2 separate regions of the Homo sapiens genome follow, and region 1 is linked to region 2. The links come from fine-mapping of genetic effects on gene expression. A gene starts in region 2. The other region holds a variant in brackets. All regions are shown on one strand. Distances are between the middles of the regions.

Region 1 (4,397 bases), 110 kb after region 2:
AACTGAGATTCCACAAGATGAGAAAAGACTGACATTGAAATATGTGAGGAGCTATCTTAGAATGTTAGAGCTTGGAAGAATTTAGAGAATTTTCTACCTGTTCCCATTTTGACAGACAAAGAAACGAAGGCCAGGACTTACCCCAAACCATACAACAGTTAGAAGAACCATGAGTAGAATCCACGTCTTCTGATTCCCAATCTAGTGTTATTTTTAAAACAAACTAAAGCAAAACAAAATTTTTTAAATAAAAAAAGCAAAACTTTTAGAGACAGGTTAGAATTGTAATTAATTTCCATGTCTAGGCTCAAACAGATGTTTCCACAAGTCTCCCTAATTTTACTAAAAGCTCTGAAAGCTTTCTTAGGGGAAAATGGTCTTCTGGTATAAAAGATATCCTAGAAAGCTATGCTTGGATGCTTAAGACTCCCCAGGATGGGAGCAAGGGGACTCTAAGCAAACAAAAACCAAGAAATGCAAACAATTATCGACTTAGTAATCCCTGAAACAGCCCAAAGTGGACTATATATTTATTTGCTTAGCTCACTTTATAGAATATAAATTTTAAGTTTTCAAAAGAGGAGGCAAGTGAAAAGATCCTTAAAAATTATGAATATCATAATTACAAGCTGGATTCATGAATCATTAATTTCAACCTCTTAGGCTACCAACATATTTACAAACATAAACACTGATAAGGGCAAATACCTGCATTCCCGACCTCTGAAAGCAGCCAAAGCCAAATAATATATTGGTTAAAAGGTTAAAAAGGAGTAATCTATAAAGAGGGCAATCTTAGGCCAGGTGTGGTGGCTTACCCCTGTAATCCCAGCACTTTGGGAGGCTGAGGCAGGCAGATCACATGAGGCCAGGAGTTTGAGACCAGCCTGGCCGACATGGTGAAACCTCATCTCTACTAAAAATACAAAAATTAGCTGGGCGTAGTGGTGCAAGCCTGTAATCCCAGCTACCCGGGAGTCTGAGGCTCAAGAATCACTTGAACCCCAGGAGGGGGTCGGCGGGGGTTGCAATGAGCCAAGATTGCACCACTATACTCCAGCCTGGGAAACAGAGCGAGACTCTGTCCCAAAAAAATAAAAATACAGAATAAATAAAATGGGTAATCTTAGATTATCTATGAATTGAAGTAGGGTGGAGAATAGGAATTAGTCCTAAGTCATTGACATGGGTTAAAATCCTTCTCTGGAACTTGAAGCTGTTTGACTTTGTTACCTGGAAAGCCTTATTAGAGCTCATCTGCAAATACACCCTTCATAGGCACATTTGTAAGAAATGCTATAACACAAACCATGTGAAGAGCATCGGTCTCCATTACAGGCACCAAGTCACAGAAGGGAGAGGGCAGAGCTGAGGCACCATAAAGGCATCCAGTCCAACCTCTTCATTTTACAAAGAGAAACCTGAAGCCTACAGAGGTTAACATGTCTTGCCAAGGGTTGGCTAATGTACAACATATGTCACTTCTCCCTTCCCGTGTACCCATAGCAAACACTGGTAATCAATCACACTTTCTCGGATCCTTGACTGCAAGAGTCAGAATGTTTCTATCACATTACACCTGCAAGTCCTGGACCGATCAGAACTCATGTGTGACATGGAAGCTGTTTCCCAACTCTGCACAAGGTCATAAAACAATCTTTGTAATACCTGCACCACTGTAGACCTGACTCAAAAGAGACAGAGTAGTCTGCTAGTCAAACTAGTTTACTGTCACTGTCAAGCCTGTGGTGAGCAAACATGGAGTCTATGTGAATATATGATGACCACATATCCAGGTT[T/C]ACCCAGGACAGTCCTGGCTCACGTCTATTTGTGGCTTCATATTGAGTAGTATCACCTATGATTCTCAAACGGATAAAAATGATATAGTCATCCTAGTTCTGTGTAGTTCCTAATCATTCACAAACATTTATAAATGTTGTTTCATACATGATGTGTCAGGAAAAAAAACAAAAACAACAACAAAAAACACTTAACCAATCACCAGGAGTTTTCTCATACAAAGGGGCTTTCAAATAATACTAAACCCAACCAGTTTTCAAGAGGGACTCAGGGACCACTGTCCAAGCCAATCTTTTTTATATATTGAGCTTCAATATGAAATTTCTTCGGGGGAAAAAAGGAGTGTCATAGCTTAAACAAATTTGGAAATCACAAAATTATCAGATCTCTGTAGCTCTGCCTGTTTTTAAATTATTTCGTGCTATACTTTAGCCTATAAAAATTCACATTATCTTGTAGAAATACAAATCTTTTTAAAGAATCTTTCATTTCTGTTTCTGGTACAAACAATTTGTGCCTTTTTGAGTTCGTATTTGCTCTCTGTTTACAGCAAAAGAGGAAGTAAAAAGTTGAAATCTTAAAAAAGAAAGAAAGAAAGAAAAGAAAAAGAAAAAAGTTAGTTCCATTAATCCAGAGCTAGAGCTTATGTGCTGGCGTTGGCTAAAGAGCCAATCATATATGTAAGAGAAGAATAAGTTTATTTGGAAAAGTCATTGGTGTAGAGAACACAGATATCAGCTATGTGCACAAGTGAAAGGTAATGATATTATCACACGAAAAGTTTAAAAATTTTAACTGGCTACCCAGACAGAAGACTAGAAGGAAACATATCAAAATGTCAAGAATAGTTATCTCTTGAGTATACAGGCTTCAGATGGTTTTAAAATTTTTTGGTTTGCTCATCTAGCTTTCTGCTTTTCCTATAATGACCGCAGTTCGTTTTATATATATATATATATATATATATGAAAAAAATCACTGAACTACCAACACATCATTCACCGGGGTGAGGAAATGGAGAGGCTAATGGGAAAAGCCAGGTATAAGCCAGGCAGGGGCAGAGGCCTCAGAGCAGCTCCTTACTATGTACAGAAATGGGTCTGGCCCAAGAGGCAGAAGGAGTTCAGGGAACGCTGTTCATCCAATGGCTTCTCTGTAAACAAGATCAGACACCCATTAATCCCATGGCTGCACTGCCCTTTCAACTATGAAAAGTATAGCCTTGTGGTCAGAGCCCCACCTGTGCAATCAGACTGCCAGGGTAGGACAGTGTGCTAGATCACTTACTGGGCGTATGACCCTAAACCGGTCAATTAGCCTCTCTATTCCTGTTTTCTCATCCATAAAATAGAAATCACACCACCACCTACCTCCTAGTGTGGCTATGAGGATTAAGACATGATTCACTGCAAAGGCCCAGTATACAATAAGAGCACAATAAATGTGTGACATTATTAGGTCTCTGCCATGAAACACCAGCCTCAAGTGCACTCTCAAAACCATGTGATTGGGTCCTGAAACAACCAGAAAAGGTTCTAAATAAAGCCTTTCTTTTCCCTTCTTCTATGCTGAAGACAGGACTACAGCATACTGTTTGCTTTAACACCAGTGCTCTAGGGAGCCATGGAAGAACAAGGGCAGCCCAGTAAAATATGTAACACGTCCCAAGGCCCCACACTATGGGCTAGAAATCCTGCTCCCAAAGTTACACAGGATTTCTAGTCTCTTGCCACTGCCACCGCTGCCAGCCACTGCCTTTGGCAAGAAGGTAGGTGACTCAAGTGTGAACTAGGACTTGGCAAGGGAACACCAAACCAGAAGGCCTCCAGGCAGGAAGCTCCAAAAAGGCCACCTGCTGAAACAGTTTGTCTGCAGGCAGCCTCCGAGATGAAAGTAGTGTTCTGCCATCATTAACAAATGCAGGTAAGAATAGTGGACACTTTAAACATGCAACAGAACTTACCATCCTAGCTTCATAACTCTGAAAATAAATTTCGGGTAGAGATCCAGGCTGAAGATACGACCACACACTTAAAATGACTACAGTGCCTTTAACTATATGACATAAAGAACACCCTAAAACAGTCAATATCAAATCAATTTTCAAAAAGGTTTCATGGCTATCTTTGAGTCAAATGCCTTAGATCTGTATTTAACAAAATTTTCTTTCCCAAACTTAAAATTATCTCACTTTACCAAAAAATATAAAACTCCTAATGTCCACATACAAGGAACTAATTACATTATTATATTAATGACATAGTTGAGGATGTTCTATGTTACACAGGGTAACCAGTTCCTCCCAGTTTGCCTGGAATTTTCCCGGTTTTAGCCCCATATGCTGGGACACCAGTCAATCTGCACAAACCAGGATGGTTAGTGCCCCCTAAGGCTGCAATAAAAATTATGTGTGCCCTGTGAAGAGGAAAACAGAAGGGACACTGTTACAAAAGTTACAAATGCAGAAGTGCTAAATGCCAAGTTTGTTTGTTTGTAGTGATAGCTCCCAGTTCCTTTTTTACAGTGAAAAAAAAAAAAAAAAGACTAAAAATTACACTGGTCTCTCCCTTTTTCTTTTTACTCTCCTGAAAAAAAAA
Region 2 (4,397 bases):
AGATCAAACCTAAACTTTAGCTAAGATAATTAAATTGTGTTGGGGAGTTAACTTTTAAAGAAAGCTAATTTGGGCAAAAAGGACAATGGATCCAGGAGGTTAGTTCATACAGAACATTTAAATCCATGTAATTTTAGTGAAACAAAAAGAACAACTATATATACTTCTGCAACAGTTTCCTGTTTTGAAAAATTGGTATAGAGGTTTTATTTCTCATCTTGGCTTGGGTTACATTCTTTGTATAACTGTATCTTACTGCATATTGAATTCATGTAGTTGCAAACATGAGAGGTGGATTTAATAATGTTAATCAATATAAACCACTTTAGTGATCTTTGTGGGGAAAAAAGAAAAATGGCCAGAAGATGATTTTCAGGGTTGTAGGTATATTCAGTATAATTTATTTGTCTGTTCAAATAGAGACAGCAGTTCAGTTTTAGGGTGCACTGGAAAACATGACTTTTTATTACTACCTGGTATGTGCATCACTTATAAAAAAGACAACAATAAAAAAGTATTCCTTATAAAAAATAGCAGAAAATGATCCATAACTACAGAAGTATCTTCTTGTGGTCATGAGTAATTTTAATTTTTGAGAATCTCACAAATTGGAAGCTAAATAAAGCAATTCAAGTGTCCTTTAAAAACAACAACAAAATCAGCATGTAGAAATGAAAGGTACTCTCAGAAAGGTGGCAATCTCCTGCTACATTTGAGGAGGCTGGAACTACTGTATACAAGATATATGGATTAACTCAGTCACATTAAATCATTCATGATTTAGGCAACTCCAGATTGGGTTTGTCTAAAATCTGTTAGCACCTGGGTTCTTTCCAAACACCAGCAAGCAATTTTTACACAATCAGGTCTTTCCAAAGCCCATGACAATTTTCCTTTAAACCCTCTCCTTCCCTTCTACTGTTCTTTTCTTTGAATTCCACGTGCATTCTTGGAAAGACAGCAAGCAGTTAAACTCTCACCACCTCTCCACAGGTGAGGGACTAGGGACATGTGTAAAACGGAGTCACCTTCCTGTTCTGGCCATTGTCAATTTTTTTTTTCCTAAGGCATCTTGTTATAGCAACCATTCTAAAATTGTTATAGCAACCATTCTAAAATTTAAGGCAGTGGGTTGATCAGGACCTGAATTAGTTTCTGCCTGAGATGACTGGAAGGTCCCCTACTCCCTCCCCAGCCAGAAAAAGTCACATGGAATGAAAATCTATTAGAGAATCCCCTCAGTGTAGTCTTTCAGGAAGCATCTTCTCATTTCCCCATCCAAAATCATGGTAAGGACATCCAGTGACAGATGTCAAAGGGAAAGGATAAGGCAGCAGGAAGAGAGAGGAGCCTAAGAGACTGGAAAACATTCGATAATATAAAATGGGAAAATGGGAAATTCTGCAAAAAAAAAGAAGTCATATCATATTTCCTTTCACAGACACCAACCCAGTGCGTAGCTCCTTTATTTCTTTACACACTACCCCCTCCAACAGGGGATAAAAGATATGTTTTCTAAAACTTAATTTGGTACATTTCAGATAACCACATTCAATTCAACAAAGATGTATTAAGCATAAGACATTTACTGAGCATAAGAAATTCAGACACTGGAGGCCGGGCGCAGTAGCTCATGCTTGTAATCCCAACACTTTGGGAGACCAAGGCAGGCGGATCACTTGAATCCAGGAGTTCCAGACCAGCCTAGACACATGGTGAAACCACATCTCCACTAAAAATGCAAAAATTAGCTGGGCACGGTGGCGCACACCTGTAGTCCCAGCGACTCGGGAGGCTGAGGTGGGAGAACCAACTGAGCCCAGGAAATTGAGGCTGCAGTGAGCCATGCTCACACCATTGCACTCCAGCCTGGGTGACAGAGTGAAATCCTGTCTCAAAAAAAAAAAAAAAAAAAAAGAAAGAAAGAAACACAGAAAAAGAAAAAGAAAGAAAGAAATTCAGACACTGGAATGTCAGAGTCAGTCTCTCCCTTGATGAGGTTACCAAGGTGTAACAGGAAGTATACAAATACGCACAGCTAGAATGTAAGGCACAGGCCGCAGGAGAAGTGCATGGAGAAGGGAGAGAAATTGTACCTGGCCTCCTGAAAGACGCAGCCTCTGAAATGAATATTGAAGACTGGGGAGGATTTAAACAGGTAGAGACGGATGGAATGGTAAGGGACTTTCCCTTCTTCATATTCAGAAGGCTGTGAGCAGAAGCTAGGGAGCCTGAACATACACAGGGAACAGTTTCATTTGGCTGGAGGAGGGGAGAAGTGAGGTAAGCTGAGTAGTAGACAGGGATCCTATCATGGAAGGTCTTGAATACCAAGCTAAGAAATTTGAGCTCTCTTCTGTGGAACTGGGGGAGCAGTGGGTGGTTTTTGAGCAGGGGAGTGACCTAAGATTTGTGCTTTAGAACAATCACTCTAAAAATGGATTGTATGATGACCTGGAGGAAAAGGCTGGAGTGTCATAACAAGTTAGGAAACTGCAATAATAGTCTGCACAAAGGGCTCTGGGGATGGAGTACCGCTCAGTTGTCAGAGGAAGCATTCTTCTGGTGGTAATATGTGAATCTAAAAGGTAAATTTGACCGGGCATGGTGGCTCACGTCTGTAATCCCAGCACTTTGGGAGGCCGAGGCAGGTGGATCACCTGAGGCCAGGAGTTTGAGACCAGCCTGGCCAACATGGTGAAACCCCGTCTCTACTAAAAATACAAAAAATTAGCCAGGCATGGTGGCGTGCCCCTGTAATCCCAGCTACTCGGGAGGCTGAAGCAGGTGAATCGCTTGAGCCCGGGAGGTGGAGGTTGCAGTGAGCTGAAATCGTGCTACTGCACTCCAGCCTGGGCGACAGCAAGACTCCATCTCGAAAAATAAAAAATAAAATAAAATAAAATAAAATGTAAATCTAGCTCCACCTTTAATGTAGCAAGGGCTAGCCTCCTCAGGAGTGGCTGCCTACATTCAAAACGATTCTCACCAACTTCTTCCACAGGACACAGGGCTCGGGAGCAGCGCCAGCCCGACATCGGCGGAGGAGCACCGGAAGTTCTGCAGCACTGGCTTTCTTTGCTCTTCCACCTATGCAAGCTCCTTCTCTCTTGTGGCTTGCCGAGCCTGGTTAGCTCTGAGACCGGAAGTTCTGAAGTCAGCTGGCATCCTACATCTGTGCAACCTACTTCTCTCCCCATCCCACCACAGAAACCAGAGCCTCGAGGCTTTTGGCTTGGGTGCTGCCTTCACAGTTTAGGTTTTGGTAAGAAGAAAGCTTATCTTCATGTCATGAGAAAGAAAAAAAAATGTATCTTTACGTAACGAGCTGAAAGAACAAAACAAGTATACCTAAGCCAAGTACATGCTATCTTTATTTCTTTATTTCCACACTGAAATTTAGTCAGGGATAAAACTTACTTTTTTAATCACACGAAGTTTGAAAAATAGGAAGTACTATGGGAAACACCTAATGCATCAAAACCCCTGTGCATTTTATCTTTGTCTTATGTTTGCTGGATTTTAATCTTAGTAGGTTTCCTGTTGCAACAATACAAAAACAGATAAAGAAAAAACTTAATAACCTTTCCTACCACAAATGTGAACAGCCCGTGTTCTTGTTGGTAGGTACAGATACAGATATATGAGATTATCGTTATTTATTATCAGAAAATGGGATTTTACTATTTCCCACACACACACTTTTTTTGAGATGGGGGTCTTGCTATATTGTCCAGGGTGGTCTCAAATTCTTGGGTTCAAGCGATCCTCCCACCCAAGTATCTGTAATCCAAGTAGTCTGGATTACAGATGCATACCACCATGCCTGGCTTATTTCCCTCTCTTACAATTTGCAAAAATAATGATGTACTGAGGACATCCCCCAGGTCGATAGCTACAGGATTAAATCATTTCTCTTAATAACTATATATAATACTATTCCATTGTATGGATATGCCATAACATATTCAATTATTCCCCTTCGAATGGGCATTTGGGTTGTTTCTAGTTTGTACCACAACAAACAAGCCTCTATCAGTGCTTATCCACATTGCACAGAGAAGTGCTACCAGAGCCAAAAGCATTTTCTGAGTACCTACAATATGCTATTTTTATGAAATATACAAAAGAAATGTGTGACATAGTCCTTTCCTAAAAGACTGCCAAATATAGTTGGGGAAATAAGCCTAACCCACACAAAACACTTAAACTGTGTAAGACAGTACTGAACCATGTTCTACAGACCTCATGCAAATGGATGCCAAGTTGTCCTTCTGCACAATGACAGATTGGAGAGGTAATCTGGAGGTGCCTTTAGCCATAATATTCTAGGAGCCTTCTTGATTCAGAAAAGGGGAAGCATGAAAGGCTAAGAAGCCAGAGTGGTGTCTCTGGAG

Direction of the effects. Positions count from the first base shown, and alleles are read on the strand shown. Sizes are in standard deviations (SD) of each study's normalised expression.
With allele C in place of T in region 1, the expression in T cells of the gene that starts at base 2,078 in region 2 is higher (large effect, 0.87 SD a copy in GENCORD).

What was found. PIP is the estimated chance that this variant, and not a neighbour inherited with it, causes the effect. A credible set is the group of variants that fine-mapping cannot tell apart.
Region 1: its variant is the best candidate, but not a certain one, in a credible set for the expression of ANKRD44-AS1 in T cells (GENCORD, PIP 0.51).

What each region holds. Positions count from the first base shown.
Region 1 is chr2:197,303,226-197,307,622 of GRCh38, forward strand. All of the region lies in intron 1 of ANKRD44 (ankyrin repeat domain 44), which reads right to left. Among named protein-coding and RNA genes, the nearest start is that of ANKRD44-IT1, 2.9 kb to the left of the region's middle. RefSeq lists enhancers at 1,570-1,699, 4,165-4,214, 4,255-4,334. The variant T/C (reference allele first, on the strand shown) is at 1,800.
Region 2 is chr2:197,195,914-197,200,310 of GRCh38, forward strand. ANKRD44-AS1 (ANKRD44 antisense RNA 1) reads left to right here and starts at 2,078. Exons shown (of 2, transcript NR_135584.1): 1 at 2,078-2,176; 2 at 3,005-3,360. The region is part of intron 1 of ANKRD44 (ankyrin repeat domain 44); the gene reads right to left. RefSeq lists an enhancer at 3,124-3,193.